Linked DNA regions of Homo sapiens. The protein of the gene in region 4 interacts with the protein of the main gene of each other region in a pairwise test. Each region holds a gene or a part of one and is shown on either strand. Other genes may lie near its edges. The genes, in order: ELMO1, NUSAP1, PCSK9 and ANXA2.

What was found.
Region 1: the proteins of ANXA2 (region 4) and ELMO1 interact in binary tests that used the Homo sapiens proteins (3 or more experiments, as listed by UniProt).
Region 2: the proteins of ANXA2 (region 4) and NUSAP1 interact in binary tests that used the Homo sapiens proteins (3 or more experiments, as listed by UniProt).
Region 3: the proteins of ANXA2 (region 4) and PCSK9 interact in binary tests that used the Homo sapiens proteins (3 or more experiments, as listed by UniProt).

What each region holds. Positions count from the first base shown.
Region 1 is NC_000007.14:37,221,386-37,229,456, reverse strand, and holds part of ELMO1 (engulfment and cell motility protein 1), read left to right. Parts: intron 1-4,426; coding exon 4,427-4,578; intron 4,579-6,763; coding exon 6,764-6,842; intron 6,843-8,071. UniProt on the Homo sapiens protein: Involved in cytoskeletal rearrangements required for phagocytosis of apoptotic cells and cell motility. Acts in association with DOCK1 and CRK. Was initially proposed to be required in complex with DOCK1 to activate Rac Rho small GTPases.
Region 2 is NC_000015.10:41,370,217-41,378,287, reverse strand, and holds part of NUSAP1 (nucleolar and spindle-associated protein 1), read right to left. Parts: intron 6,762-8,071; coding exon 6,604-6,761; intron 2,577-6,603; coding exon 2,460-2,576; intron 1,093-2,459; coding exon 984-1,092; intron 1-983. UniProt on the Homo sapiens protein: Microtubule-associated protein with the capacity to bundle and stabilize microtubules. May associate with chromosomes and promote the organization of mitotic spindle microtubules around them.
Region 3 is NC_000001.11:55,049,548-55,056,547, forward strand, and holds part of PCSK9 (proprotein convertase subtilisin/kexin type 9 isoform 1 preproprotein), read left to right. Parts: intron 1-1,644; exon of another isoform or gene 1,645-1,906; intron 1,907-2,730; coding exon 2,731-2,864; intron 2,865-3,099; coding exon of another isoform or gene 3,100-3,102; coding exon 3,103-3,244; intron 3,245-6,445; coding exon 6,446-6,642; intron 6,643-6,989; exon of another isoform or gene 6,990-7,000.
Region 4 is NC_000015.10:60,346,086-60,353,492, reverse strand, and holds the end of ANXA2 (annexin A2), read left to right. Parts: intron 1-1,016; coding exon 1,017-1,110; intron 1,111-1,673; coding exon 1,674-1,769; intron 1,770-2,241; coding exon 2,242-2,300; intron 2,301-4,295; coding exon 4,296-4,418; intron 4,419-5,803; coding exon 5,804-5,863; 3' UTR 5,864-6,342; downstream 6,343-7,407. UniProt on the Homo sapiens protein: Calcium-regulated membrane-binding protein whose affinity for calcium is greatly enhanced by anionic phospholipids. It binds two calcium ions with high affinity. May be involved in heat-stress response.

The DNA.
Region 1 (8,071 bases), on a different chromosome or scaffold from region 4:
TGTGTGAATCTAGATTCTGGTTTACAAATTTTGGCTGCAATAAATAGCATCATTTCATAAACAGCTCTGAAACTTGGAATTCCTTGATACCAATATATAATGTTGCATTTTAAAGACTCGGCTACTTAGGGAGAGAGTAAGAAAATATGGAGTAGAAAGAAAAGAAAAAAAAACTTTAGGTGTTATGAGTTGGTTTTTCCCTAGCCAAGTATAACATCAGTGCCTTCTTTTGGAAGGAAAGTTTCATATAAATGCTCTTGAAACCCTAGCTGTGCAGGAGAACCTGGCTTACCCCGCAAATGTTTTCAGTGCCTGGACAAACATCCCACCATTTTGCTTTAGAGACCTGGTAATTTTTGCCTCTTAAAAATTTGAGAGATTTACAGGCATCTACCTAGATAATTTTAAATACAGGAGTGGAGCTTCATGTTCTCCATGGCTGGTTTTTTGTTTTGTTTTGTTTTTGAGACAGAGTCTCGCTCCGTCACCCAGGCTGGAGTGCAGTGGTGTGATCTTGGCTCACTGCAACCTCTGCCTCCTGGGTTCACGCGATTCTCCTGCTTCAGCCTCCCAAGTAGCTGGGACTACAGGAGCCCACCACCACGCCTGGCTAATTTTTTGTATTTTTAGTAGAGATGGGGGTTTCACCATGTTAGCCGATCTCCTGACCTCGTGATCCACCCGCCTCGGCCTCCCAAAGTTCTGGGATTACAGGTGTGAGCCACTGTGCCCGGCCCTCCATGATTCTTTTAGGTTTTGATAACATAGGAGAATTTTAAGATCTCATTCTAAGTGATTCTAAGAAGTATTTATTGGATCGTTGATTCATGCACTGTAATGCCCCTTAGCTTCTTAAAAGTTACATAAGTATTTCTCTTATTTAGCCAAGATTTTTAAATGAATGAGCAGTACAAGGAGCTAGTGTGTATAATTAATTACTGCTAACTCCTCTTGCTTCTTCCTTATGTTACAGGCCTACTTTCGAGAAGCTGTACTGTGGCTGGCTTGGGTTGGCTCACTTGTGTCACCCAAAAGTACAGTAATGGAGCTGGGATAAATTGAAAGGCAGAGGGAATCATTATTACTCTTTTGGGGGATAAAGGAAATGAAAATTTAAATAGGCATGAATAACCTTCTCTAGCTATATGAAGATCTATAGTTTTCAAACTGGACGTAGAGACATGTGTCCATTAACTAATTTATACATTCAGTTATAAGGAGTTGGTCTCAAGCTCCCTGGAGGACGACAGTTATTACATTCACTTGGATCAGCCCTGATGCGTTGGTTATTAATACTCATTAAGTGGAAGTATTAGGTCATTTGAATATCTGGCTAAAACCAGTGACAAATAAAACAAAAGAAAGAAGTTAAGTTTCAGAAAACCATTAGCATCTACTTCAGACTTGTACATAGGACTGTAATGCATTGAGTGCCCCAGGTGTGTTACACAAAATGCTCATTATGTAACATGCTTTAGGATTGCTGAAATGATTAGTTTATTTATGTCAAGGAAGAGGTGAATTACTAGGAACATGAATTTTAAAGAATACTTTCATGAAAGTAAGGGATTCATTTCTTAGGAGAAAAATAATGAATGGAAATGGAATATGTATGTGGGATATAAATATGCCTGAATTAAAGCAAAGACAGCAAATTATTTTTACCACCATTGAGCAAGCCCACTGGCAGCAGAGAAGAGTTAATGATTTATAGAGAACTTTAAAACCCATTATGAGAAGGTATACTTCATATCAGAAAACACTGAGTGTAGGCTGGGTACCGTGGCTCATGCCTGTAATCCCAGCACTTTGGGAGGCCGAGGCGGGTGGATTACTTGAGGTCAGGAGTTCGATATCAGCCTGGCCAATCTGGTGAAATGCCATCTCTACTAAAAATAGAAAAATTAGCTTGGCGTGGTGGTGCATGCCTGTAATCCCAGCTACTTAAGAGGCTGAGGCAGGAGAATTGCTTGAACTGGAGAGGTGGAGGTTGCAGTGAACTGAGATCATACCATTGCACTCCAGCCTGGGCAACAGAGCAAGATTCCGTCTCAAAAAATAAAAAATAAAAAAGAAGAAAACACTGAGAGTTCTGATTGAATATTTCAAGAAAGGAAATATTGTAAAAAGGATATTTATGGAAGTAGGCAACTAATTCAGGGGGTAAATTTCCATTTGATGGAAAACTTGAACATAAAATAAACTGCAGAAGATTATGTTTCAGTAACCCAGCAATGAGTTAGACCACTGGGCCAGTGTTATTTGTATATACTCTGTATCAAAACGGAGACATGTCAGATGTATCACAGGGATATAAAATAGGCAGCTGGAAATATGAATCACCAGTGATTATGGATTCTTAGAAAAGAGTGATAATTGGGAAGAGAGGAGTAGGAAGACAATGAGATTGATAATCCCCCTTTTTAATTTTTGGCTTTTTTGGAATATCCAAATGGTGGCATCCTTTTGGATGCCAAGAATAGGCCCGCAGTGTACTTCATAGTAAATGCCTTTTTATCTGTCCATACTAGACTGTAAGGTCCTTGAAGTTTGTTATTTTCATCTTTGTATTTCCAGCTCTGTGGGACAGGGCAAGCCTGTTACATAGTACACACGCAATGCATGTTACTGAAATGGATCACTTAATGATGAGTAAATATTGGCTGAATGAAAAGAGTGGATAAAGATGGAGGCGGAGGGTGCTTGACAATATCAGCAACAGCTTCTCAGGCAGAAGCCTCCATGCATCCTTAAGGCACATCCAAATTTAATAAATAGAGACAAGCAGGGGAGCCGGGAATGAGGAGAAAATTAGTTGCAAGAAAATCTGAAGTATTGTCAATGAATTTCTTTATGAGTTCTTCAGTTTCCTAATACCAGTGCCAAGAATTATGCCGAGAGCGTGAAAAATGGTTTGGTGGGGTGGGGGAGGAGTCAGATAATTTATCCTCTGTTTAGAAGATGTCTAAGTTAAGTATTAAACCCTGAACACAGTGTGACAATAATTGGATTTTTGTCAGAGAAAGATGGACCTAGGGAAAGAAGGGTGGCCTTAGCATGGTAGATTTGGTGGATTGGAGCAGACTGCGAGGAATAAGTCAAGGGCTTGCCAAGGATAGTAAACATGTCGGAGAAGGTTATTAGCCATGAGAAGAGCTGAAGCAGTCTTTTGAGAACCTGAAAATTTCCATACTCTTCCTGAAGTTTGTATTTTAAAATAATAGCTTTTCGGAATGTAAAATCATAATGTCACTGCACTTCTTCACATTATTTCCCACCCCTGAGATCCAGATGTAGCTGGGGTAGGCAGAGTGTTGGTATCTGCGTCTCCCACCCCTCCTTTCACCTGGAAATCAGCGGACTAGGGACAATTCCGATGGTACCTGGGAACTGCCATGGTGTGCTGTGCATTTATCATGTGCAAAGATGGAGAGGAGATGAGGCAAGTGGTCTCTGGGGCAGCAAAAAAGGGAGAAATTAGTGTTGACAGGGGGGAAGCAGCAAGAGTTTACTTGTCGTGGAACCAAGTTATTTAGCTTTTAAGAACAGTCATTATGCTGATATAATAATGGCTTTTTATTGTGAGCTGTCAACAGACAGTAATAACTTTTAATGAGGCCTCTAAAATAAAACCTTTATGGTACCCATGTGTTTGGATTACTGCGATCCATTATTCTAACCTCTATTTTATTTTCCGCTCACATTGTGATTTATTATGTTTGGGGATTTAGTGATTAATTCCTTAGAGAATCTATTTTGGAGCTTAAAGTAGTATTTTAACTTTTAGTACTGCTCACTTAAATGATTTCCTGTTTGCTAAATTTGGGAGAGATGAAAAGAACTTGTTTTAACCATCAGAAATTGGAAGAAAGGGGTAACGAGTTTTTCGTTTAAGAGAGTGGCCGGTGACTGAGAAGTTGCCAGTTGAATTGTGTTGACAAGTGAGATTTGTGCGAGTCCCTTAAGAATGCAACAAGAACATAATAAGCATATAAAAGCCATGGATTGTGTGGATGAAGGAGTAGCCTGGGAATGCAAGAGGAATGGCAATTAACATATGTTGACATTACCATCCCAGAGAAACACAGGTATCCTTACAATATATGTGTTGAAATTGTCTGCCCCTAAAAGATGAAACTCAGGAGAATAATCCTAGGAAATACAGAAAGAATAATCCTTGGAGGTGTGTCTTTTTTAAAACATTTGCTTATCAGTGAATTATAGAGATGAGATAAATCATGCTTTGTAATGATATCATGAACAATCCCTAGTTCAATGGGTTTCTTGCTATTTTGCTGTAATTCCAGGTCATCCTCAGTGCCTGGTGTTTCTTAAATGAGTTCCCGATTTGATTCATTTGTTCCCTTCTCCACGTCTCTGCTCTACTTACCACGAGCAGTCAATTGTGTCCCACTTGGATTTTCAGATAGCAAGTTTTGTGAACAAGTCAGCCATAGACATCTCGATCCTGCAGCGGTCCTTGGCCATTTTGGAGTCGATGGTGCTCAATAGCCATGACCTCTACCAGAAAGTGGCGCAGGAGATCACCATCGGCCAGCTCATTCCACACCTGCAAGGGTAAGCATGCCAAGATGCTCTGGGGAGGAGAAATGCTTCAGGAAGATGGCCACGGTAATGCACTGGGAAACGTTTTATGTTGTTATAGTTTGGTTAAATGTACAGAAAAAGAATCTCAATTTGGCATATAACCAAACCACGTGTCACACTGGAATGGCATGGTTACTTTCCCTTGGCCTCTGTCCCTCACTGAACTCCAAGCTGGTTCTTGGCATTGCCTGTCCCCACGCCTGGCCCTTGGTAAGCTCTCAGTTTTAATGGATATTGGTAGATATTGGCAGAGTTTTACTTTTAAGAAGATAAAACAGGATGATTTGTTCTCTTAAGTTCTCTTTCTTAAACCATGTAAGTTAATGTTTTCTGTGATATAATGAGTATTTTCATAGTTAATTAGAAATGTAATGTTATGCATTTTTACTAGGAATTTTTAAAGGCAGGCTTCTTTCTTAGTTATGCTCAAGGTGATTCTAGTGAGCTTCTTCTTTTGTATTTTATAATAAAATGTAGGATTTTTTCTAGTGGCTTGAGCTATAAAATGGACATAAGATAGCTGCCCCTGCAGCCTGCAGTCTTTGAGGCATTTTTCCCCTTCTTTCCTCCCTGAGGTAACTAGGAAGGTTGTCTCTGACAATACCAACCTGAGAAGGACTCTATTGTACAGTGCTACCTTAGAAATTCAAGTATTTTGGATTGCAGTGATAATAAACATTATGAGCTTGCTTACACAGGAAAGGAGGTTATTGGAACAATACTGGGGTACTTTGTAGAATCCAGAAATGACATAAGTAGCTAAGCCTTGAGAAGGAGAGAAACCATAGCTTCCCCGGAGTCCTCAGCAGATGGCCTTTTCTCTAGCATTTTGGTTGGCACTACAGTGACCCAACTCCCCCTAACTGTTGCCCCTGGTCCATTAGGTCACAATTACAAATTCTCAAGAGGAAACCCAATTGGCCCATTTGGGTTGGTGGTGCAGGGTGGGAATGGTTCTCTGAAATGTTAACTGTTGTGTTGATAATATAAACTACCAAAGCAGATTATATTAGATATTATTTTCATTTGGAGGTGGGAGGATTACCAACATTTAAAATTTAAGTCACAGAAGCTGAGGATTGTGGTGGCCTCCGTGATTGTGGCCTCAGAATCATAATTCTTCAAAATGATGATAATGTAAGGTAGCTTCTCTAGAAATAAGACCAGTTTCACATTTCCTTTGAATGTGAACTGTATTAATTTATATACTGTGTCTTTTGTGGGAATCTCAAAGGCACACATCTTCATCCCAAAGCACGTTACCAAAGTGGAGAGTTTATTATTCTCCAAGTACTGTGCTAAGGATTTTACATGCATAATCTCATTTTATCTTCACAGCAATCCCATGAAATAAGTGTGTCTAACCCCATGTTGTAGATGAGGTAACTGTGCCTTGGGGGATACTCATGAACTTGTCCAAGGTCTCAGCCAGCCTGTGATGAACTGGGCTTTGCACCCTATCCTGGCCTAGTTCTAAGCTCCACCTCTCTCTCACTGGCCTGATAAGTTATTCCTAAATGTAGCTCATAAGTCACTCTTTGTTTATGCCTTGAGTCCTCCTTATTTACTGTTTACCACTTGCCTTACATTAGAGCTTTGTTTCATTTTATTATTTCTGGTTCCTTTCCAGTGAAAATCAGATTTATAAACAAACACCTGTTCTTTTTGTTATTGAAATGTTTATATTTGGAAATAGATTTTTAGAATATATAATAGAGCCATCCAATTAGCCCAAGAATGTGGAGACATCTGAAACTACTCCCTGATATATTTCATGTATCAGACAGAAAATTACACATACATACACATACACATACATACATACAGACATACATACATCTATTACTAGTAGTACATCAATTACAACATCCCCTAGGTTTATGCCTTTAATCTGAATAAGAGAGAAGGCTGCCTATATTTCTGGGCATTCTGCACTGACCAGTGTACTGTCAGCTAGTAATAGTAGTTGTATATTTACCACCTTGTGATGTTTGAAATGCATTCTCAGTGCAAAATGCATTTTCTAGGCCCTGCCTTTCTCTCTCACTTTTTTTGGGGGGAGGGGGCTGATTTTGAGCCTTTTCATGGTTTGACCCAGGGCTAGCCTCTTCTGACTTCGTGTTCTGATTTTCTGAATTGTTCTCTATCTTTACAGGTCAGATCAAGAAATCCAAACCTATACTATTGCAGTGATTAATGCGCTTTTCCTGAAGGCTCCTGATGAGAGGAGGCAGGTAAGTTGCATTTCTTTAGTCTTATGGCTATGTCAAGGCTAGGAACTTTGTGTGCAGAGAACGCCCTCTCCTTCTATTCGGGGACTCATTGGGCCTCTCTGCTATCCTGGCCACAGATGGACTCTCCAGAGCAGCTATGTTCCGCTGCACGGCTGGCCCGCTGGGGTCCTTCCCAAATCCAGGGGCAAGTGGGTAGAGATGGATAAGCCCTTGACTGATGAGGGATGCTAGGAGTGTTCCAGCAGTAGAGCCTTTTCATGAAATGAAATGCAACCTGGAAGCCCAGATGTAAAAAGATGAAAACGCTGCTGTGGTGGAAGCAGAGTTAGGAGCCCCTGCGACCTTCTGTCATTTCATGGGATGCTCACTAGGTTGAGGGAAGTGCTGTTCTCATTTTCTGTATCAGGAAACAGACCCTGAGGGGTGCCATGTTTTTCCCAAGGAAGGAGGTGATGGAAGGTAAGAGGACAGGAGGGATAATATGCAGATGGCTGCTCCTTGTGGAGATAACTGCATTCGTATGTCAGAGGGGCTCCTTGCTTGGTGAGATTACTTACTTCTGTGTGTGGATGTGGCTGGGAAATTGGAGCCATCTGTTTCCTCTCCTGTATAAAAAGAGCCGGGTGCGGTGGCTCACACCTGTAGTCCCAGCCCTTTGGGAAGCCAAGGTAGGCAGATCACTTGAGGTCAGGAAGCTGAGACTAGCCTTGTCAATATGGCAAAGCCCCATCTCTACTAAATATACAAAAATTAGCTGGGCATGATAGTGCACGCCTGTAATCCCAGCTACTCAGGAGGCTGAGGCAGGAGAATCACTTGAACCAAGCCGGGAGGCAGAGGTTGCAGTGAGCTGACATCACACTGCTGTACTCCAGCTTGGGCGACAGAGCAAGACTATCTTAAAAAAAAGAAAAAAAAAGGAAGGAACCCCTTAATATACATACATGGAACCTTTCCTCTGATGGTGTCCTTTGTCTGTAGATCCTTTATTTCTTTCTTCACGAAGGAAAGGAGCATTACAGAGGGGATGTGAAGAAGTGGAATTTTGCCTTGTCTTGGAATTTAGGTCACACCTCAAAATCCATTCATGTTTTTTTCAATCAACATGTCATGTAATATGTTACCCTGGTCACAATTTCCTTCCTTAAAAAAGTGGGTGGGAATATGAGCTCTTTCACTCACCTAGAAACTATGCTGGGGAGCTTGATGGCAGTTGCCAGTGAGTTCGT
Region 2 (8,071 bases), about 19 Mb from region 4:
CTTGTAAGCCTGGTTTTCTTAGGAGTGAGGAATTTATGTCTATCTGGATATGTAGGTGCCCTGGGCTGCTGGGCATTGGTATCTGGAGAGATACCCACATGCCCTGTGTTTAGGCAGATGAGTCATGCAAGAGCAGTGCTCTGAATCTGGGTCTTCTTCTGAATCACCTGCAGAGCCTTGGAAACAATGCAGGTGCTTGGGCCTCACCCCAAATCTGCTGATTTGGAGTCCATTACACTGGAACCTAGGCAGATGTACTCAGAAAGTTATATACACGATACCACTTTTTTTTTTTTTTGAGACGGAGTCTCACTCTGTCGCCCAGGCTGGAGTGCAGTGGCGTGATCTCGGCTCACTGTAAGCTCTGCCTCCCAGGTTCCTGCCTCAGTCTCCCGAGTAGCTGGGACTACAGGCGCCCGCCACCACGCCCGGCTAATTTTTTGTATTTTTAGTAGAGATGGGGTTTCAATGCGTTAGCCAGGATGGTCTCGATCTGACCTCGTGATCTGCCCCCCTCGGCCTCCCAAAGTGCTGGGATTACAGGCGTGAGCCACCGTGCCTGGCCCATGATACCACTTTTTTTTTTTTTGAGACGGCGCCTGGCTCTGTCACGCAGGCTAGAGTGCAGTGGCGCGATCTCGGCTCACTGCAAGCTCTGCCTCCTGGGTTCACGCCATTCTCCTGCCTCAGCCTCCCGAGTAGCTGGAACTACAGGCGCCCGCCACCATGCCCAGCTAATTTTTTGTATTTTTAGTAGAGACGGGGTTTCACCGTGTTAGCCAGGATGGTTTCGATCTCCTGACCTCGTGTTCCGCCCACCTCGGCCTCCCAAAGTGCTGGGATTACAGGCGTGAGCCACCGCACACGGCCATAATACCACTTCTAACCTCCTCTTAAAACACCACTATTACTGAGCCCCTATCCCTCAGAGGTGCTGCTTTTGAAATTAAAATAATTATAAAGCTGGATAATTATGTACTTACTTTGTCTGGAGATGGGGTTGTTTGTAAGTTTTCTTGTAGAAGTTAATTCTGTTGACATGTTGATTTAGATAATTATTTTCTTTAGATTGCCCCCATGGTTTTAGCTTTCCTAGTTTAGGACAGAGACAAAGAATTTTAAAAAGATTGTTTGATTTATATTCCCAACTTCATTCTCTTCATCTGTGGGGTTACCTGCTATCAACATTTATACTTTTTTTTTCTTTGAGACAGAATCTCACTCTGTCGCTCAGTTTGGAGTGCAGTGGTGTGATCTGATCTCAGCTCACAGCAACCTCCGCCTCCTGGGCTCAAGTGATCCTCCCAATTTAGACTCATGAGTAGCTGGGACTACATGCACATGCCACCATGCCCGGGTAATTTTTGTATTTTTTAGTAGAGACGGGGTTTCATCATGTTGCCCATGCTGGTCTTGAGCTCCTGTTCTCAAGCAATCTGCCTGCCTTGGCCTCCCAAAGTGCTGGGATTACAGGCATGAGCCACTGTGTCCAACCAATTTGCAATTTTACAAAAAGAACTGGGACCAAATTTCTTGAAGTTTATGTGTTGCTTTTTTTTTTAATTTAAATTTAATTATTATTATTTTTTAAATTTTTTAGACAGAGTCTCGTTCTGTCGCCCAGGCTGGAGTGCAGTGGTGTGGTCTCGGCTCACTGCAAGCTTCACCTCCTGGGTTCACACCATTCTCCCACCTCAGCCTCCCGAGTAGTTGAGACTACAGGCGCCCGCCACCATGCCCAGCTAATTTTGTTTTTGTATTTTTGGTAGAGACGGGGTTTCAATGTGTTAGCCAGGATGGTCTCGATCTCCTGAACTCATGATCCGCCTGCCTTGGCCTCCCAAAGTGCTGGGATTACAGGCGTGAGCCACCGCGCCCAGCCTGTTTTTGAGGCGTGGTCTCACTATGTCACCCAGGCTGGAGTGTAGTGGTGCAATCTCGGCTCACTGCAACCTCTGCCTCCTAGGTTCAAGCGATTGTCCTGCCTCAGCCTCCCAAGTAGCTGGGATTACAGGCGCCGCCACCACGCCAGGCTAATTTTCTTATTTTTTTTCAGAAGAGACGGGGTTTCACCATGTTGGCCAGGCTGATCTCGAACTCCTGACCTCAAGTGATCTGCCCACCTCAGCCTCCCAAAAGTGCTGGGATTACAGGCCAGAGCCACTGCGCCCGGCCGCAGAATTTGTTTATTCTTAAGTTTTTATTTTTTATTTTTATTTTTTAGATGGAGTTTCACTCTTGTTGCCCAGGCTGGAGTGCAGTGGCACGGTCTCGGCTCACTGCAACCTCCACCTAACAGGTTCAAGTGATTCTCCTGTCTCAGCATCCTAAGTATCTGGGATTACAGGTGCCTGCCACCACGCCTGGCTAATTTTTGTATGTTTAGTAGGTGTGAGCCACTGCGTCCCACCAATCTTAAGTATTTTACAGGCCCTGTAGCTCAAAACACTCCCACATACCTTTGTGTGGTTCATAGTTGAGGGGACGAGACAAACTTGCTTTAAGATCAAACACTGGTTTCTTATTGGAGACTGGAGTCTGCGTTGCCTCAGTTGTCAACTTGAATGGGGTAATAACTAAAAACACACCGAAAAAACCCAAGAGCTTAATTAGAAACAAAGACCTGGTAAAGTGTTTATCAAAGTGTTACTTCTCAATCTTAAAAATACACGTTATAGGCTGGGCATGGTGGCCCACACCTGTAATCCCAGCACTTTGGGAGGCCGAGGTGGGCGGATCACGAGGTCAGGAGATCAAGACCATCCTGACCAACATGGTGAAACCCTGTCTCCACAAAAATACAAAAAATTATCTAGAGGTGTGGTGGCTCACACCTGTAATCTCAGCACTTTGAGAGGCCGAGTCGGGTGGATCACCTGAGGTCAGGAGTTCAAGACCAGCCTGACCAACACGGAGAAACCCCATCTCTACTAAAAATACAAAATTAGCCAGGGTGGTGGCACATGCCTGTAATCCCAGCTACTCGGGAGGCTGAGGCAGGAGAATTGCTTGAACCCGGAAGGCGGAGGTTGTGGTGAGCTGAGATTGCGCCATTGCACTCCAGCTTGGGCAACAAGAGCGAAACTTGGTTTAAAAAAAAAAAAAAAAAAAAATTAGCTGGGCGTGGTGGTGCATGCCTGTAGTCCCATGCCGAGTAGGCTGAGGCAGGGGAATTGCTTAAATCCGGGAAGCAGAGGTTGCAGTGAGCCAACATCGTGCCACTGCACTCCAGCCTGGTGACAGAGCAAGACTCCATCTCAGAGAGGGAAAAAAAAAAAATTAGCTAGGTGTGGTGGCACGTGCCTGTAATCCCAGCTACTCGGGAGGCTGAGGTAGGAGAATCACTTGAACCCGGGAGGTGGAGCTTGCAGTGAGCCAAGATTGCGCCATTGCACTCCAGCCTGGGCAACAGGGTGGGACTCCATCTCAAAAAAACAAAAGAAACAAACAAAGAAAAAAAAGAAGCTGGGTGCAGTGGCTCACGACTGTAATCCCAGCACTTTGGGAGGCCGAGGCAGGTGGATCATGAGGTCAAGAGAGCGAGACCATCCTGGCCAACATAGTGAAACTCCGTGTCTACTAAAATACAAAAATTAGCTAGGCGTGGCAGCGTGTGCCCAAAATCCCAGCTACTCAGGAAGCTGAGGCAGGAGAATCCCTTGAACCAGGGAGTCGGAGGTTGCAGCGAGCCGAGATTGCACCACAGCACTCCAGCCTGGCGACAGTGAGACTGTGTCTCAAAAAAAGAAAAAAGTTATAGCTTGAATGTTTGTATCTCCTGCGATCCCAAATTCATATTGAAATCCTAACTGTCAATATGACTGGTGTAAGGAAGTAGGGCCTTTGGGAGGTAAATAGGTCATGAATGGGATTCAGGGCCTTATATAGGGACCCCATAGAATTTTCTCTAGCTCTCTTTCTGCCACATGAGCATACAACAAGAAGTTGGTAGTCTGCTACCTGGAAAACAGCCCTCACCAGAATCATGCTAGTGCCCTGATCTGCCCTCATCCAGCCTCCAGAACTATGAGAAAGAAATTACCGCTGTTTATAAGATACAGTCTTTGGTGCTTTGTTATATAATAGCAGCCGCAAAGGACTAAGACAATCTACATGAATAGTCTGAAATAGATGAAAGTCTGAAATAAGGGTTAAAATGGAGAAAAGGGGAAAACAATAATTGAGGAAAGCTAACCATTGAGATTAATTTCCTTTGCTAAGCAGCTTTGTAAATGTTCTGAATATTTTGTTTTTGTATTTTTAGTAGAGACGGGGTTTCAGTGTGTTAGCCAGGATGGTCTCAATCTCCTGAACTCATGATCCACCTGCCTTGGCCTCCCAAAGTGCTGGGATCCTAGGATCAGCTGGGAGTTTAGAATTCTGTTGAAGGAAATGACGGTAACTTTTCAGCTTATTTCCCTGATAACAGATATGGCTCACACCTGTAATCTCAGCACTTTGGGAGGCTGAGGCAGGAGGATTGTTTAAAGTCAGGAATATTATTAATAAGGGCTCTTATCACTTCAGAATATTAATTTTTGGCTGGGCGCGGTGGCTCATGCCTGTAATCCCAGCACTTTGGCAGGCCGAGGTGAGCGGATCACGAGGTCAGGAGTTCAAGACCAACCTGGCCAATACGGTGACACCCTGTCTCTACCAAAAATACAAAAATTAGCCGGGCGTGGTGGCGGGCACTTGTAGTCCCAGCTACTCGGGAGGCTGAGGCAGGAGAATGGCGTGAACCCAGGAGGCGGAGGTTGCAGTGAGCCAAGATGGTGCCACTGCACTCCAGCCTGGGTGATAGAGTGAGACTCCGTCTCAAAAAAAAAAAAAAAAAAAGAATATGAATTTTTGCACCACGAAGTTAAAAATATCCAGGATGGTGTAGTTTTTTTTAATTTTTTTGAGACGGAGTCTTGCTCTGTCTCCCAGGCTGGAGTACAGTGATGTGATCTCAGCTCAGTGCAACCTCTGCCTCCTGGGTTCAAGTGATTCTCAAGTGAGTAGCTGGGATTACAGGCGCGTGCCACCACGCCCGGCTAATTTTCGTATTTTTAGTAGAGACGAGGTTTTGCCATGTTGGCCAGGTTGGTCTCCATGCCACCATGCCCAGCCTAAGGATGGTGTAGTTTAGTTAGCCTTTTTGCTACAGTTGGCCATCAGTTAATCCTTTCTCTCCCAATCTCTTTTTTTTTTTGAGACAGGGTTTCACTGTGTTGCCCAGGCTGGCTGGAGTGCAGTGGCACAATCTCGGCTCACTGCAACCTCTGCTTCCTGGTTCAAGCGATTCTCCTACCTCAGCCTCTTGAGTAGTTGGGATGATAGGTGCATGCCACCATGCCCGGCTAATTTTTGTATTTTTAGTAGAGTTGGGGTTTCACCATGTTGGCCAGGCTGGTCTTGAAATTCTGACCTCAAGTGATCCACCCACCTCGGCCTCCCTAAGTGCTGGGATTACAGGCAAGAGCCACTGCGTCCGGCCAATCCTTTCTTTTCATAGGGGGAAGCCACAGGTCATTGCCAAATGTGAACCCTTGCCTACATCTGTGAAACAGCAATCAGGATCTAAGACCACTTAGTTAAAAAAAAGCACAAAACCCTGTGTTCAAGCTATCCCACTGTATCAGTATCAAATGCTGACAGGGAGTAGAACAAGGGACTGCCATACACTGCCACTGGAAGCACAGATTGGTACAATTCATTCAGGACAGTAAATGTCTGCATATTTTCCAATCCAGCTGTCCTGCTCCTAGGTCTAGGGAAACTCTTGCACATGTACAGGAGACATGTTTAAGAGTATTCATAGCAACATCATATATAATAATGGAAGCTGGAACCACCCACATGTTCGTGAATAGTAAAATAGATAAACTGACATATACCCACACCACTGAAAAATACTGTGAAAACGAGTCAACATGGTTGAATCTTGAAACATGAAGTCTGTGGTCTGGGATCCTGTTAGTGTCAGAGTCCTCCAGGACCTTTCCGAGGCTGCAACGAATACTGTGCTCATCCTCCGAATCCCTGAGTCCCACAAGGGGCACAGTGCCCTTCCTGGAGGGTCACCATTTTAGGATTAGATGGAGCTCTCAGGCAGATATCTGGTTTTTGCTTATGTCTCTGGCATTTCCCCCACTAGTACACAATTAAAAATACACTATGGTAAAATTTTTGCTTTTGATTATAGAAATGGAAAGGGTTTAAGGAAACAGATACAGGCCGGGCGCAGTGGCTCACGCTTGTAATCCCAGCACTTTGGTAGGCCGAGGCGGGCGGATCACCTGAGGTCAGGAGTTTGAGACCAGCCTGACCAACATGGTGAAACTGTCTCTATTAAAAATACAAAATTAGCCGGGCATGGTGGCATGTGTCTGTAGTCCCAGCTACTCAGGAGGCTGAGGCAGGAGAATTGCTTGAACCTGGGAGGCAGAGGTTGCAGTGAGCCGAGATCCCGCCATTACACTCTAGCCTGGGTGACAAAAGCGAAACTCCATCTCAGAAAAAAACAAACAAACAAAAAAAACAGATATACCTAATCATTTTGGGAAGTTACATGGCTTAAAAATGAAACAGATTTCTTTTGTTTTTTTTTTTTTTTACCAGCAGCAGAATTCCCCGTGATGGTCTTTAATTTGTGTGTCCCAAGCACAGCCTCGCCTTTTGGGGTGCCCCCAGACACGGTCACATGTGCAGACTTTCTGGCTGGAGTCTTGGTCAGTGAACGCTTATGCTCATTATCTTTAGTAGCAGCTGAAAACCTAAATAGGACAGCAGAGTACAAGACATGAGTACTGTGGCAAGAGTAACTTGTGTCTAGCTTATAAATAAAACCACTTGACTATTAGCAAGCAGTGAAAAGGGCCTCAATTAATAATTGTCATAGGAACGAACCTCTTTTGCAGAAGAGACATATTCCTAAAAGGCTAATGCTAAATTAAATCACATATCAACTAACATTATTTGTAAAATATGTTCTTGTCTTTTCTGCTCTCCCTGCCTTGGACAATGATGGTGATGGAGGAATAGGTGTGGAGGCCTCATTATAGTCCAAGAGGCAAGCCAAAAGCTCCCCTTCCTCCTCCTCCTCCTCCTCCTCCAGGTTAGGGGAAGTCACAGGTAGCAGAAGACTGCTATGCTAGGTGAGTGGTGAGAACAGGTCTTGTATGTTCCTAAAAGAATGTCATTCATTTGTGTGGTAGAGAAATAAGCCCATTCTTTACCATTCTTTACATATGGCAAATTGCCACAAATGTATTTGATTGATTGACTGATAGTATTTTTTCTACATTTTAACATCTCTGAAATTGGGATGTGTTTTTACAATTCATAAGATGTCAATAGTTAATTGGTAGTGTTTTTTCTTGAGACAGGTTCTGGCTCTATTACCCAGGCTGGCATGCAGTGGTATGATCTCAGCTTGCTATAACCTCTGCCTCCTAGGCTCAAGCCATCCTCCTGCCTCAGCCTCCCGAGTGGCTGGGACTATGGGTATGTGCCACTGCGCCTGGCTAATTTTTTTTTTTTTTTTTTTTTTTGAGATGGAGTTTTGCTCGGTCGCCCAGGCTGGAGTGCAATGGTGCGATGTTGGGTCACTGCAACCTCTGCCTCCCAGGTTCAAGCGATTCTACTGCCTCAGCCTCCCCAGTAGCTATGATTACAGGCATGCGCCACCATGCCCGGCTAATTTTGTATTTTTAGTAGAGATGGGGTTTCACCATGTTGGTCAGGCTGGTCTCAAACTCCTGATCTCAGGTGATCCGCCTGCCTCAGTCTCTCAAAGTGCTGGGATTACAAGCATGAGCCACCGCGCCCAGCTAATTTTTATATTTTTAGTAGAGATGGGGTTTTGCCATGTTGGCCAGGCTGCTCTCAAACTCCTGGGCTTCAACCATTCACCCATTTGGAGACGGAGTCTCGCTATGTCGCCCAGGCTGGAGGGCAGTGGTGCGATCTCAGCTAACTGCAAGCTCCGCCTCCTGGGTTAACACCATTCTCCTGCCTCAGCCTCCCAAGTAGCTGGGACTATAGGCGCCCGCCACTACGCCCGGCTATTTTTTTTGTATTTTTA
Region 3 (7,000 bases), on a different chromosome or scaffold from region 4:
AGGGAACTAGCAGCCCCTGCCTCACCCGGGGGTTTGGAAGATAGAGGGAGGCCTAGGAAGGGCCCTGTGTCTCATCCGAGCTGGGCCCCTTTCCAGCCTCTCACTGGAAGGAAGCCCAAGGATGTTCCTGTGGGGGCTTTTACCAGGCCCACCTGCCCTCTGCTGGCCATGCTTGCAGCCTCCTGACCCTGTCCCAGCAGGACAGTGGGCTGGTGTGAGCGGGCAGGAACCGCCTGCACTTAGAAGGTGTGGGGCTGCCTCCCCGAGCTTCCATCTGCCGCTGGGGCCACACCCCAGGCCCAGGGATGGGACCCCACAGTGGTCACATCATCTTGCAGCAGAACCCAGGTACAGCTCCTGGAGCAGATGGTGGTCCCAAGCACGGGTGGGACCAGAAAGGACTCTCACCTGGGCTAACTCAGCTGCAGCCTCAGTTCCCTCCTCACACACGACGAGGAACATGGACTGGAAGCCTGCCCAGCAGGCCTTCTGCTCGATGTGCGTTGTGTGGCTTACGTCCAGGGAGGGAAGCAGCCTCTGTGCTGTCTTCTAGATAAGCCTGTATTCCCCGGGCTGTCTGCCAATGTATCCAGTTGTCCCGTCAGCCTGGAAGCTCTGAGGGAAAACCTTGGGCTGCTTCCTGAGCACCTGTATCCCCTGCAGCCAGCCCGGGGCCTCTGCTAGGAGCAGACTGAGCATGGCTTATGGGCCTGGCACCATCTGGCCTCTGCCCACCTTGCTGGCCTTGTCTTGTGTCTGCCCCTTCGACATTCCATAGCCCAGCTCAATATCTAGTGGTTCCTCTAGGGTGGCGAGCACTGTTTGGTCTCCAGATGTCTTCAGGTCGGAGCTCACAGCGCTCTCAGCCACCCCTTCCCAGTGTAGCACCGGGCACATGGTAGATGCCTATTGATGAGTGAAAGCTCCTAACACACTCAGAGAGCAAGGACTCCGCCTCATCCCACAGCCTGGGAGGAGAGGCAGACTGCCAAGGACCTGCTCAGCATGCTACAGAAGAAACCAAAGTGCCCACGGGACTGATCAGTGGAGCTTCCTGCCGAGACTGGAGGCCTTAGGGCAGGGTAGACAGTGTGTGTGCAGGCTGGGGACTCACAGTTCGGACTGTGCCCAGACCTACTAGCATAGTGGGTGGGTGGGAGGATGCGGGACTGGGGGCCGACCTTGCCTGAAATTCATGTGGGATCTCAGAGCAGCCACTGAATTGCTCTGTAGGGGGCTAAATAGTGGCCCCCACAGATACACACACCCAGACAGAGCCTGTGAGCCAGACCTTATTTGGAGAAAAGGTCTTTGTAGATGTAATTAAGCATCTCAAGATGGCATCATCTGGATTATGCGGTGGGCTGTAAGTCCTGTGATGTGTCTTTATGAGAGAAAGGCAGAGGGAGATTTGACACACACAGGAGGGGCCACGTGGAGACAGAGGTGGAGATTGGAGAAATGTGGCCACAAGCCAGGGAACACCAGCAGCCACCAGAAGCCGGAAGACGTGAGGCAGGGTTCTTCCCAGAGCCTTCGCTGCTGAGTCTGGGAATTTGTGACCGAAGCCATAAGAAGTGGGTACACGCCCTGAGCCTCCCACACTTGCTCACCTGTCCTGAGATGAGAATCTCTACTCTGCAGCATATTTGGAGGATCACTGCGGGGGCCACAGAGGTGCTGTTCAGATGGCACTTCAGAAGACTCAGGAGACCCTGGGGCAGGAGCAGTTTGACTGACAGCCCAGAGGGCTGCCCTCTGATTCCACCTGAGGCCCTGCTTTTCCTGGCTGCAGGGGTTCCAGGGCCAGGCCATTTCCGCTGGCGCAGGACTCTGCTAGCAGCAACCTGCCTGAAGTCTTCCTTTGGCCTGGCTGAGAGTTTCTGAGACCTGCGCTGGAGCGGAGGTGCTTCCTTCCTTGCTTCCTTTCTTCCTCTCTCCCTTCTCCATCCAGCAGGCTGGACCTGCCTGGCATCTGTGAGCTCTCCCTACTTTCTCCTATACCCTAACCTTTGTCCTGCATGGGCGACTCCCCCAGTGAGTCTCTTGCAGCTTTTACCCCAGTGCCTGCTTCTTGGAGAATCCAAACTGATCCAGTTAGGGATGATAAAGTGTAGGGTAGGCGCTCGGTGACTGTTTTCTCTGAGGTTGTGACTCGTGTGAGGCAGAAGCAGTCCCCGTGAGCCCTCCTGGTATCTTGTGGAGTGGAGAACGCTTGGACCTGGAGCCAGGAGGCCCAGACATACATCCTGTCCGAGCTGCAGCTTCCTGTCTCTAAAATGAGCCGGCCAGCGCAGGTGGCCAGACATCACTGTTATTCTCCTTTGAGTCTTTAAATCTTGTTGTCTTTCTTGCAGACTCGGTGAGCTGTGAAAGGCTATAATAGGGGCTTTATTTTACACTTTGATACTATTTTTTGAACATTCATATTATTGTTAGATATTGATATTCATATGAAGGAGCAGGATGACTTGGGTCCTTCTTGGCAGTAGCATTGCCAGCTGATGGCCTTGGACAGTTACCTGCCCTCTCTAGGCCTCCCTTTCCTTGTCTATGAAATACATTATAGAATAGGATGTAGTGTGTGAGGATTTTTTGGAGGTTAAACGAGTGAATATATTTAAGGCGCTTTCACCAGTGCCTGGGATGTGCTCTGTAGTTTCTGTGTGTTAACTATAAGGTTGACTTTATGCTCATTCCCTCCTCTCCCACAAATGTCGCCTTGGAAAGACGGAGGCAGCCTGGTGGAGGTGTATCTCCTAGACACCAGCATACAGAGTGACCACCGGGAAATCGAGGGCAGGGTCATGGTCACCGACTTCGAGAATGTGCCCGAGGAGGACGGGACCCGCTTCCACAGACAGGTAAGCACGGCCGTCTGATGGGAGGGCTGCCTCTGCCCATATCCCCATCCTGGAGGTGGGTGGGGACTGCCACCCCAGAGCGTTGCAGCTGTACTCCTGGGTTGCACCCCCCCCAGCTGTCACTGTCCCCTCCCTGCCATCAGTTGTGGGAAGGGCGTTCATCCATCCAGCCACCTGCTGATTTGTTATAGGGTGGAGGGGGGGTCTTTCTCATGTGGTCCTTGTGTTCGTCGAGCAGGCCAGCAAGTGTGACAGTCATGGCACCCACCTGGCAGGGGTGGTCAGCGGCCGGGATGCCGGCGTGGCCAAGGGTGCCAGCATGCGCAGCCTGCGCGTGCTCAACTGCCAAGGGAAGGGCACGGTTAGCGGCACCCTCATAGGTAAGTGATGGCCCCAGACGCTGGTCTCTCTCCATCTGGACCTGGCCTGGGAGGTGGCTTGGGCTGGGCCCAGGGAGAGCTAATGTCTCCTAACCAAGAATGCTGTGGCAGCCTCTGCCGCAGAGCCAGAGAACCAGAGTGCCAAGGCTGGCAGGGTTCCCAGTGGCCACGAGTGCAGATGAAGAAACCCAGGCCCCAAGAGGGTCATGCAGGTAGCCCAGGGAGTTCAGCCTTGACCCTGGGTCAATGACCTTTCCACAGTTCCACACTGCTCCCCTTTTAAAATCCGGTGATGTCTTTATGTCTTTTGTTATGTTATCTTCAATGTGGAGGGACTCGAGGTGATCTAAGCAAACTTTTTCTATCTTCTGCTTGCATACCTCTGAGACCAGGGGACTCACTCACTTGCATGACTGGGCCCTGCAGGTCACACTGGCCAGGCAGATGTGGTGGAGGAACTGGCAGAGGACTTTTTCTAGACTGTGACTACATTTAGTCCACCCAGCGGCCCCCCTATGAAGTCCAGTTGAGAACTAGGACTCTGGGGGCCGGTGGACAGAGAAGAGGGAGGGTTCTCTCCCTTACTGACTTCCTTCTGTGGCCAGACATTGAGCAAGGCCTCTGTACAGCATGTCCTGGGGCTGGCCTTGCCGTAGCTGCTAAATAGTTGACGAAACCAGTCCAGAGAGGGGAGGTGACTGCCAGGGTCGCACAGCTCAAGCTGGGGAACTCGCTGGGAAAACTGTCAGCTCTGGGCAGCAGCTTGACTTCCACTGTAAGCCCCAGCCCCCAGGGTCAAACACTGGCTCTGGTGCTGGCAGAGGCAGCCCACTAGCCTGTTTCAAAGGCTGAGAAGGCCCAGGAGTCTGCCCTGTGCTCCACCAGTTCTGCCCTGAGACTTTCCTACAGAGTACAGGTTTTGATGTTCAGTTTTAAAGGCAAGAATCAATAACCTTCTGCCCCATCAGGTGACCCCTTGTGCCTGTCCCACCCCTTTATTGACTGACCTCGGCTCAGTCAGGTCAGTTCCTGAAGGTCAGTGTGTGGAGGGGAGGCTGTTCTTTCCCAGAAAGGCCTTCCCCAGGCCTGGTGCTCTGGCCTCTGGAGGACTTCCTGGAGAAGTCCCTTCTTTGGGGTCCCAGTCAGTGTATGGGAAGCCCTTATTGCATGACCTGGCACGGGGCAGGGGCTCAACAGTCACTATTGCCTTCCTTGCCACTGCCATTTCCTCCTCTGTAAGCAGGTGATTGTGTGTCCAGTCTGAGCACAGAGATAAGCACACAGCAGGTGCTTAATAACTAGCAGCTGTAGGCTGGGCGCGGTGGCTCATGCCTGTAATCCCAGCACTTTGGGAGGCCGAGGTGGGCAGATCACCTGAGGTCAGGAGTTCGAGACCAGCCTGTTCAACATGGTGAAACCCCGTCTCTACTAAAAATACAAAAATTAGCCAGGCATGGTGGTGGGTGTCTGTATCCCAGCTACTTGGGAGGCTAAGGCAGGAGAATCGCTTGAACCCAGGAGGTGGAGGTTGCAGTGAGCTGAGATCGTGCCACTGCAATCCAGCCTGAGTGATAGAGCGAGATTCCATCTCAAAAATAAATAAGTAAATAACTAGCAGCTGTAAATGTGGCTGTTGTTCTTCACCTCCACACTCAGTGCCACTCCACTCCCTCCCTCCGTGGTGTGAGGGGCCTCACTAGCTGTCTCCTAGGAGGAGCATGGCTGTGAGATTCCAGCTCCATCCTTGGCCACGGCTCCTGGAGACATCTTAGAGGCCAGGATCCAGAAGGCTCCCACACCTCATTTGACAGGGGAGAAGCTGTCAGTTCCAGGTCCCCTTGCACATCAGGGCCAGAGCTGCGTTAGGCCTCCAGTCTCCAGGCCACTGGGCCAGAGCTCACAGGCTGGCAGAGGGTTAGAACTGTTACTGGTGGCTGGGTGCAGTGGCTCACGCCTGTAATCTTAGCACTTTGGGAGGGCAAGGCGGGAGGATCATGAGGTCAGGACATCGAGACCATCCTTGCTAACACGGTGAAGCCCCGTCTCTACTAAAACTACAAAAAATTAGCCGGGCGTGGTGGCAGGCGCCTGTAGTCCCAGCTACTCAGGAGGCTGAGGCAGGAGAATGGCGTGAACCCGGGAGGCGGAGCTTGCAGTGAGCCGAGATTGCGCCACTGCACTCCAGCCTGGGCAATAGAGCGAGACTCCGTCTGGAAAGAAAAAAAAAAAAAAGAGCTGTTACTGTTGACAGTAGCATGAGGTAGACCATGGCCTGCACCAAAATGGGGGAGTGGAGTGCCACTGAGGCCAGAAGGAACCACACCCTCAAGGGTGGGGAGTTATGGTATGGGGGGTCCTAGGCATGGAGTCTTTTAATTCTTTAGACAATCCTGGGAGCAACTGTCCCTGTTTCACAGAGGGCGGGGCCACACAGCTGGTGAGTGGGCAGCCAAGACTCTGTTCAAGTTTGTGTGGGTCCAACACTTGCGGCCACGGTGGAGGGGCATCTGAGCCAGGCCTCAGAGAGTGGCGGGGGAAGTTGGGTGGGGAAGTGTGCCCTTCTCATTCCTCTGAGGCTCATCCTCTTGGTGCCTCTCTTTCATGGAAAGGGATAATAAGGTTATTGTGAGGATCCCCTGAGTTCGTATATTCAGACGCTTAGACAGAGCCAGGCACAGAGAAGGGCCCGGGGTTGGCTAGTTTGATTGCTGGTGTAATTGCTAATATCTTCCAGTTTGTATTGGTCAAGGTTCTGCAGAGAAGCAGAACCAGTAGGATGTATATATTAAGAGTTTCAAGCTCATGTGACCGTGCGGGCTGGCAAGTCTGAAATCCGCAGGGCAGGCCAGGCAGGCTGGCAATTCCTGCAGAATTTGATGTTGCAATACTGAGTCCTAAGGCAGTCCTGGGGCAGAATTCCTTCTTCCCTGGGAGGCCTCAGTCTGTTCTCTTAAGGCCTTCAACTGATTAAATGAGGCCTGCCCAAGTTATAGAGAGTAACCTGCCTTACTCCGTCTTCTGATTTAAATGTTAGTCACATCTAAAAAATATTTTCGCAGCAGCATTTCCACTGGCTTTTGACCAAACATCAGGCCACAAAGTTGATCCCCAAAATTAACCATCACTCTGTGCCTGTAAGGGAGGGGCTGGGAAAGGGGAGCAGGTCTCCCCAAGGGGTGACCTTGGCTTTGTTCCTCCCAGGCCTGGAGTTTATTCGGAAAAGCCAGCTGGTCCAGCCTGTGGGGCCACTGGTGGTGCTGCTGCCCCTGGCGGGTGGGTACAGCCGCGTCCTCAACGCCGCCTGCCAGCGCCTGGCGAGGGCTGGGGTCGTGCTGGTCACCGCTGCCGGCAACTTCCGGGACGATGCCTGCCTCTACTCCCCAGCCTCAGCTCCCGAGGTAGGTGCTGGGGCTGCTGCCCCAAGGCGCGGGTAGGGGGCGGAGGGCGGAGGGCGGAGGGAGGGCGGGCGGGCAGGCGGGCTTCTTGTGGCACGTGGGCTTCTTGTGGCACGTTCCTGGAGGCCGAACCCTTCTGGCTTTGGAAGGAGTCGTCAGAGACCCCCGCCATGCGGGAGGCTGGGGAGGAAGGGGCTCGAAACCTCCATCATCGCAGAGTCTGAATAGCAGTGGCCCCGCCATGCGCCCACGTAGCGGCGCCTACGTAGCCACGCCCCCACACCCCGTCCTGGCCACTCTCCCTCCTGAAGGTCTTCTGGTACCCGCCCCCTCCCCATCTCCATCCCCAGGCCCTGCGTCC
Region 4 (7,407 bases):
CACTCAGGCTTTGCTTGTATGGAAGCATCAGTTTCTGCAGAGTGTAATGTGGCTGTGCATACCAATCAGGCAGGCAGGTGGGAAGCAGAAGAAGGTGGAGGAGACACAGCCAGGGACAGGATGGTGTACTGCTCTGTTGTGGTGGGGGAGAAAGGGAGGCCAGCAGAGACCTGTCCTTTTCTGGCTGAATAAGACTTTTGCCAGTTCTAGTTCCATTATCTCTGAGAACTATTTGTTAAGCTTATTCAGACTGCAATGAACTATATTCTTTACTCAGAGGGACAACGATTATCTCAAAGTAAGTCATAAAAGCTGCAGAAAAAAATTAATTTAAATTAATGTTAGTTTTAAAATTCAATATATTCCACACGGCACTTCTAGCAGGTAGTAGAGAAGGGTTTTAAATAAAGTAATAGAAGTTGGGTTTTGCAGTTCCTAGATGGTGGAAGATCACGGAATGAATATCTACCCTTGCATAAGCCTTTCTTCCTCTTGCCCTCCCTGCCATTGTTAGGGCTACTTGTAGCCCCTAAATTTTCCAGAAACTGAAAGTGAGATGAGATGGGCTCCTTTTCCAGCTCCATCACTCCCTGAGTCTCTGAGAAGCTTGAGAATGAGAGCCTGGTCTGTAGCTGTCCAGTAAACATCTGCTAGCTTATCTGCCCCTAAATGTGCCCAAAGGGAGGAGGGCCAGATGTGTTAATGAACATTTACTTGTTCTTCTTTATATGAATACAAGCTCTTGGTCCCTCCTTTCTTATTCAAGGAAGGAGATTGTACAGCAGACCTCACGAACTATCTGCAGTCTCATATGGTATCCATCTGTGCCTAAGGAAGACTGCTTGTGATTAAGACTTTTGACCTAAATAGTAGGTCTCTGCCCATGTCTGCAGTATAATCATCTTTCCTCGTTTGGCATTTTGAATGTGTAGCTTTTTTTGTTTTTTTTGCATGACATTTTTTTTGACGTTACATTGGATGTGTAGTTAACTTTTCCTGGTTGGTTGTACTCGTAGGATCTCTATGACGCTGGAGTGAAGAGGAAAGGAACTGATGTTCCCAAGTGGATCAGCATCATGACCGAGCGGAGCGTGCCCCACCTCCAGAAAGGTGGGCACTGTGCTGAGGGAGTCTCAGTGCCTTGGGGCCCTGGCTGGGGCGGCTGGGTGGATGTCCATGTTGGGATGGAGTCTGCCAGAATGAGGTTCTGTCTCCGCTTGGCACTCTCATAGGCTCACCCATTTTCCCTCACCTTTCTCTCCCATTCTGGATTCTTTTCTCTTGCAAATAGTTTCTGCATTTGGTGCTTTATTCTGCAGCTCCTTCTTGTTTGATGATCATTTGGTCTTGCCATTATTTGTTGAAGTAGTGGACTTTGGTGCATGCTCTGTACTGTTTCCTATGGTTTTCGGATGGAATGGGTTCCACTCAGGGGAGATAGAGATGGTCCAAATATGTGGCCTGGGCAGTGCCATTCAGGACAGGTGGTATGGCTGTTCCACGACAAACTTGGCCAATGTTGGCTCTGGTCACCGTGGTAACCTCTAAGCTCCTAGGATGCTGTGATCATCCTCAATTTTTAAAAAAATTATGGTGCATAAAACTAGGTGGGTGATCGTTGACAGCTTTGACTAGTGGCTCGGATCTGATAACTCTTTGTTGTTTTTCCTCAGTATTTGATAGGTACAAGAGTTACAGCCCTTATGACATGTTGGAAAGCATCAGGAAAGAGGTTAAAGGAGACCTGGAAAATGCTTTCCTGAACCTGGGTAAGTGAATGTGGCCCCCATTCCTGGTAGACATCAGCTACCAGAGCAGAAGTGACAGATGGCCATCCTGTTAATCCAAATGTGTTTGGGAGGTGTGGCTTCTATGCATGCTTTGGATAGTTTTACAGTCTTAATTGTATAGATTTCAGAATATAAAACTGAAGAAAGGCCTAACTTGGTAACAGATTGTTGCCAGGGAGGAGTAAGAGAACAGGAGGAGAGAGGGGTGTGTTGTGGAAACTCACGTATGCACTTGGGTTCTGCAGGCCTCAGAGACCCCTGGTTTAAAACCGTGGTGGAACTTAGTATTGCAGAGGATTTCTAGATTTCCCTTAGCCTGTCCTATTTTGCAGCCCTTTTCCATTGCATTAGGTCACTTCTGGTTTGTGGCCCAGGGCCAGGGCATCCTCTCTCATTGGTAGAGGAGAGACCAGAGCAGCTGCAGCGCTGACTCCCTTTCTTCTCTCCACAGTTCAGTGCATTCAGAACAAGCCCCTGTATTTTGCTGATCGGCTGTATGACTCCATGAAGGTAAGGGCAGCTGGCTGAGAGAGCTGTGTTTCCACACTCAGCTTTTCTTCTTTTGGGTCCCAAATTGAGTCTCCTTGATTCATGGATGGAGGAAGGGGACCCCACTGTGTGGATGCAGGAACACACTAGTCAGCTGTGGTTGTATGTGACAGCTGAGAGAACCACAAATCTGTCTTCTTTCTCTCAGCTGCTTGAACATGTATTTGCGTACAGACAAAAAGTAAAGTGCCATGGGAGAGAGAAAATGCGACATGGTAGTCGTGTCTGATCCCTGCTTAGGTTTCTCCGTGATTTCTTCCTGTTACTGCCAGAGTCAAGACAAGCGAGGAAGGGAGCGATTATTAAGCACCCACTATACAGTGGACAAGTGCTACTATTTTACCTTAAATCATTGCATAACAACCTCTGAGGCTTATGATTATCTTCTTTATAAATGCAGAGATGGAGCTCAGAATACCTCAGCCTGCTTGAAGTTACACAGACAGATTTGAACCTGGGTCTATCAGACCCCAAAGACAGCCCCACAACCCTTCCCTAAACGAACCACCTCTTCCCGTAGACCCATCCCATTTTCTACACCTCAAGTGTGCCATGTGTTTTCTGGCTTCTAGGCTTTTGCATTTTCCTTCTGGAACATCTCCCTTGTCTGTGCTGCCTCTGCCATCTGTCTTTGAGTTCCATATCAAATAGCACCCCTTGGTGCCTTCGCTCTGATGCTCTGGAAGTAAACTCAGTGGTCTTTATTGCACATATCATTAGAAATGGCACAGAGCGATGATAGAAATGTGTTGGCATGTTCCCTCTAAGCCTGCAAGAGTCAGGAACCTCTTGTTACATATGGAGACTCAGACTGCTTGAACTGAGCCTTGCAGTAGTAGGTGCTCAGTATATATTTATTGAATGGTGGCATAGAGTGGGAGTCTGTGCTGACTACAGCCTGGTGTGTTTGGAATTCCCAGATGCTCTTCTTTCTTTTCTTTTCTTGTCTTGTCTTTTTTTTTCTTTCTTTTTTCCTCCCTCCCTCCCTGCCTTCCCCTGCCTCCCTGCCTTCCCCTCCCTCCCTGCCTTCCCCTCCCTCCCTGCCTTCCCCTCCCTCCCTGCCTTCCCCTCCCTCCCTGCCTTCCCCTGCCTCCCTGCCTTCCCCTCCCTCCCTGCCTTCCCCTGCCTCCCTGCCTTCCCCTCCCTCCCTGCCTTCCCCTGCCTCCCTGCCTTCCCCTCCCTCCCTGCCTTCCCCTGCCTCCCTGCCTTCCCCTGCCTCCCTGCCTTCCCCTGCCTCCCTGCCTTCCCCTGCCTCCCTGCCTTCTCCTGCCTCCTTGCCTTCCCCTGCCTCCCTGCCTTCACCTCCCTCCCTTTCCTTCCCCTCCCTCCCTTTCCTTCCTTTCCCTTTCCCTTTCTTCTCTCTTTCTCTCTCCTTCCTTCCTTCCCTTTTTCTTTCTTTCTCTCTTTCTTTCTCTCTCTCTCTCTGTCTTTCCCTCTCTCTCTCTGTCTTTCCTTTCTTATAGGTTTTTGGGAAACAAGTAGTGTTCGGTTACATGAATAAGTTCTTTCGTGGTGATTTTTGAGATTTTGGTGTACTTATCACCCAGGCAGTGTACACTGTGCCCTAATATCCCTTATCCAAAATGCTTGGGACCAGGAATGTTTTATATCTCAGATTTATTTTTGATTTTGTAATATTTGCATATATATGATGAAATATTTTAGGGATGGGACCCAAGTCTAAACTTGAGATTCATTTATGTTTTATATAGACCTTACACACATAGCCTAAAGGTAATTTTATACAACGCTTTTGATAATTTTGTGCATGAAACAGTTTGTGTTAAGTGCTGTATGTGGAATTTTTCATTGTGGCATCATGTCGGCACTGAAAAAGTTTTGGATTTTGGAGCATTTTAGATTTCAGATTTTCAGATCAGGGATGCTCAACCTGTAGACGCTTTCTTTAACGATAACATTCTCAGCGAATGTAACAAATATCAACTTGATTTTCAGGGCAAGGGGACGCGAGATAAGGTCCTGATCAGAATCATGGTCTCCCGCAGTGAAGTGGACATGTTGAAAATTAGGTCTGAATTCAAGAGAAAGTACGGCAAGTCCCTGTACTATTATATCCAGGTAAGCCCGAGGTGCAGTGTCAGCCTGCCCTGCCGTCCAGAGCACCCCGGGCCCTGGCAGGTGGCCTGGCAGAATGATGACAGAGTGGCGATTTTCTGTTTTCTGACTCTCTGGGGAAGAGATGCTAGTCATCAACTATCAGGGATTTATTTTGAAAGCACCATTTGTGATTTGTCCTGGACTTTGTACAATCAGGCAGATGTTTTATATTTTTCACATCTGTTACTCTACAATGATCATCGGTGTTCATGACGATGATCCTGCAAGGCTTGCTGACATCCCGAAGAGGCTTGGAAGATCAGTTACATTTTACTTTTTTTTTTTTTTTTGAGACGGAGTCTTGCTCTCTCGCCCAGGCTGGAGTGCAGTGGCCACAATCTCGGCTCACTGCAACCTCCGACTTCTGGGTTCACACCATTTTCCTGCCTCAGCCTCCCAAGTAGCTAGGACTACAGGCGCCCGCCACCACACCCGGCTAATTTTTTTGTATTTTTAGTAGAGACAGGGTTTCACCGTGTTAGCCAGGATGGTCTCGATCTCCTGACCTCGTGATCCGCCCGCCTCGGCCTCCCAAAGTGCTGGGATGACAGGCGTGAGCCACTGCGCCCGGCCACATTTTACTTTTATTATGCATTGGTTCCTTGAAAAATCCTCTGGGATAGGCCTAACAACTTTCAGTTATTCAGAACTCCCATCTCTCCAATCAGTTTAGCATCTGTCTGTTTTGATGTGATGTCGCATTTGCAGTAAGGAAGTGATGGCATTCACAGTGGTACCACTGTGTAGATTTCAGACAGCCCTTGCAATTCCCCTTTCTAGAAGTTCCTCAGATGTCCAAAGGCATGCCCATGGTTAGCAAGGATAAAGTTAGAGCTGGATTTTTTGTAGCCAGGTTTATTAGGGCACATGTTTAAAGTCAAAGGACCAGTTAGACTCTTAGTAATTGTTCCTCACCTCACCAGCTTATTTCCACTTGACCTTAATAATGCAGGAAATAGGAGAGTGAGCTAGGAAAGTACCCTGTTTTCTGTGGAAAGACGAGGACGAGAGAGGAAAGTTAGGGTGTTTGTAGGACCTTGCTGCAGTAAGAACAGCCCTGGTCACTAACCTATGTCAATCCTCAGCACCTTGCACTCCCTCCACCCCACAGTCCTAAGGAGCCTTGAGTGTCTTCCCCAGCACCTCCTCCGACCACACTCCTGGAGGCTTCCCTGGCAATGGTTTGGGTGTGGCCTTCCAGGCCTTTGTATCAGGGCAGGTCTCCTGCAGAGTCTTCTCTTTGTCATGGGAGAAGCTTCATTGTGCGTTGAGGCTACTTCTGTGTTATTGAGGAGTCTGGGCTTTTTTCTGATACCACGTTTCTTTTCTTTCCTGGGCCATTGTAGCAAGACACTAAGGGCGACTACCAGAAAGCGCTGCTGTACCTGTGTGGTGGAGATGACTGAAGCCCGACACGGCCTGAGCGTCCAGAAATGGTGCTCACCATGCTTCCAGCTAACAGGTCTAGAAAACCAGCTTGCGAATAACAGTCCCCGTGGCCATCCCTGTGAGGGTGACGTTAGCATTACCCCCAACCTCATTTTAGTTGCCTAAGCATTGCCTGGCCTTCCTGTCTAGTCTCTCCTGTAAGCCAAAGAAATGAACATTCCAAGGAGTTGGAAGTGAAGTCTATGATGTGAAACACTTTGCCTCCTGTGTACTGTGTCATAAACAGATGAATAAACTGAATTTGTACTTTAGAAACACGTACTTTGTGGCCCTGCTTTCAACTGAATTGTTTGAAAATTAAACGTGCTTGGGGTTCAGCTGGTGAGGCTGTCCCTGTAGGAAGAAAGCTCTGGGACTGAGCTGTACAGTATGGTTGCCCCTATCCAAGTGTCGCTATTTAAGTTAAATTTAAATGAAATAAAATAAAATAAAATCAGTTCCTGAGTCACACAATCCACATTTCGAATGCTCAGCTTTCACATGTGGTCAGCAGCTAGTATATCTGGACAGCGCAGGCAGGGAACATTTCGATAGAAAGTTCTGTTGGGCAGCAGTACATGCCCAGGGCATGAGAGGACCTATGGGGGAGAAAAAGGGTCCCAGAGGGACCCCTTATCTGCTTATCTTTCTACAGGTTAATTAGGTGAAAATAAGCATCAGGGGCAGCCACAAACTGGAGAGAGCAGTGGGGCAGGGTGGGGCAGGCTACAGCATTCTGGCAAAGGAGATCCAACACAAGCCGATGGGAAGCACGGAGAAGGGATTTCTTTTGACTGGGAGGATTGAGAAAGATGATAGAGAAAAGGAACAATTTGAGCTGCACACTAAAATCTAAGGTGAGGTTTTACAGCTGGGAGAAAGCACTCCATGCAGGTTCTTAAGGGTCTGGGAATGAATGACAGGTCGCTGATACAATGGTACACATGTCAAAAAGTTCAGAGACTTCTTTCTGTACAGGGAAAGTTATGTCTCTCCCTTACTAGCCAGTGGCCTTCCCTGGAGTCGCCTGGTTTCCAGTACATTTTCATGGATAGACTGCATACGCATGTATATATATGTATCTATCTGTGTTCATAAATGTGAAGGTGCTGTCCCCAGGCTGCTGGTACTGGGTTCTGCAGATTCCTTTTTATACAAGTGCTCCCCATAAGCAGGGTAGAGGGCTGGGAGTGAGGGGAAGTTGACTACTCCTCCTAACCCTTCTCCTTAGTGGAGGGTGTGTCAACTACTCATTTTTGGCACCTGGCTGATGCAGGGCCCACTCAGTCATCTGCAGGGACTAGGTAGGTAATGGAAATGAATGTATGAAATGGGCAGGTTGGACAGAAGTGGGGAATCTGGGGAAAATGGGGAATGCCTGCCTTGCTTGAGGCATTCAAATTCAATTCAAACAACAGTCGTAACAACATGGCATTGACCAAACCAAATACATCCGTGAGCTGATTGGCTGCTATTTTGGCCCTTTGGCAAACTTTAGATGGAAATTTGGATCGAGCATGGC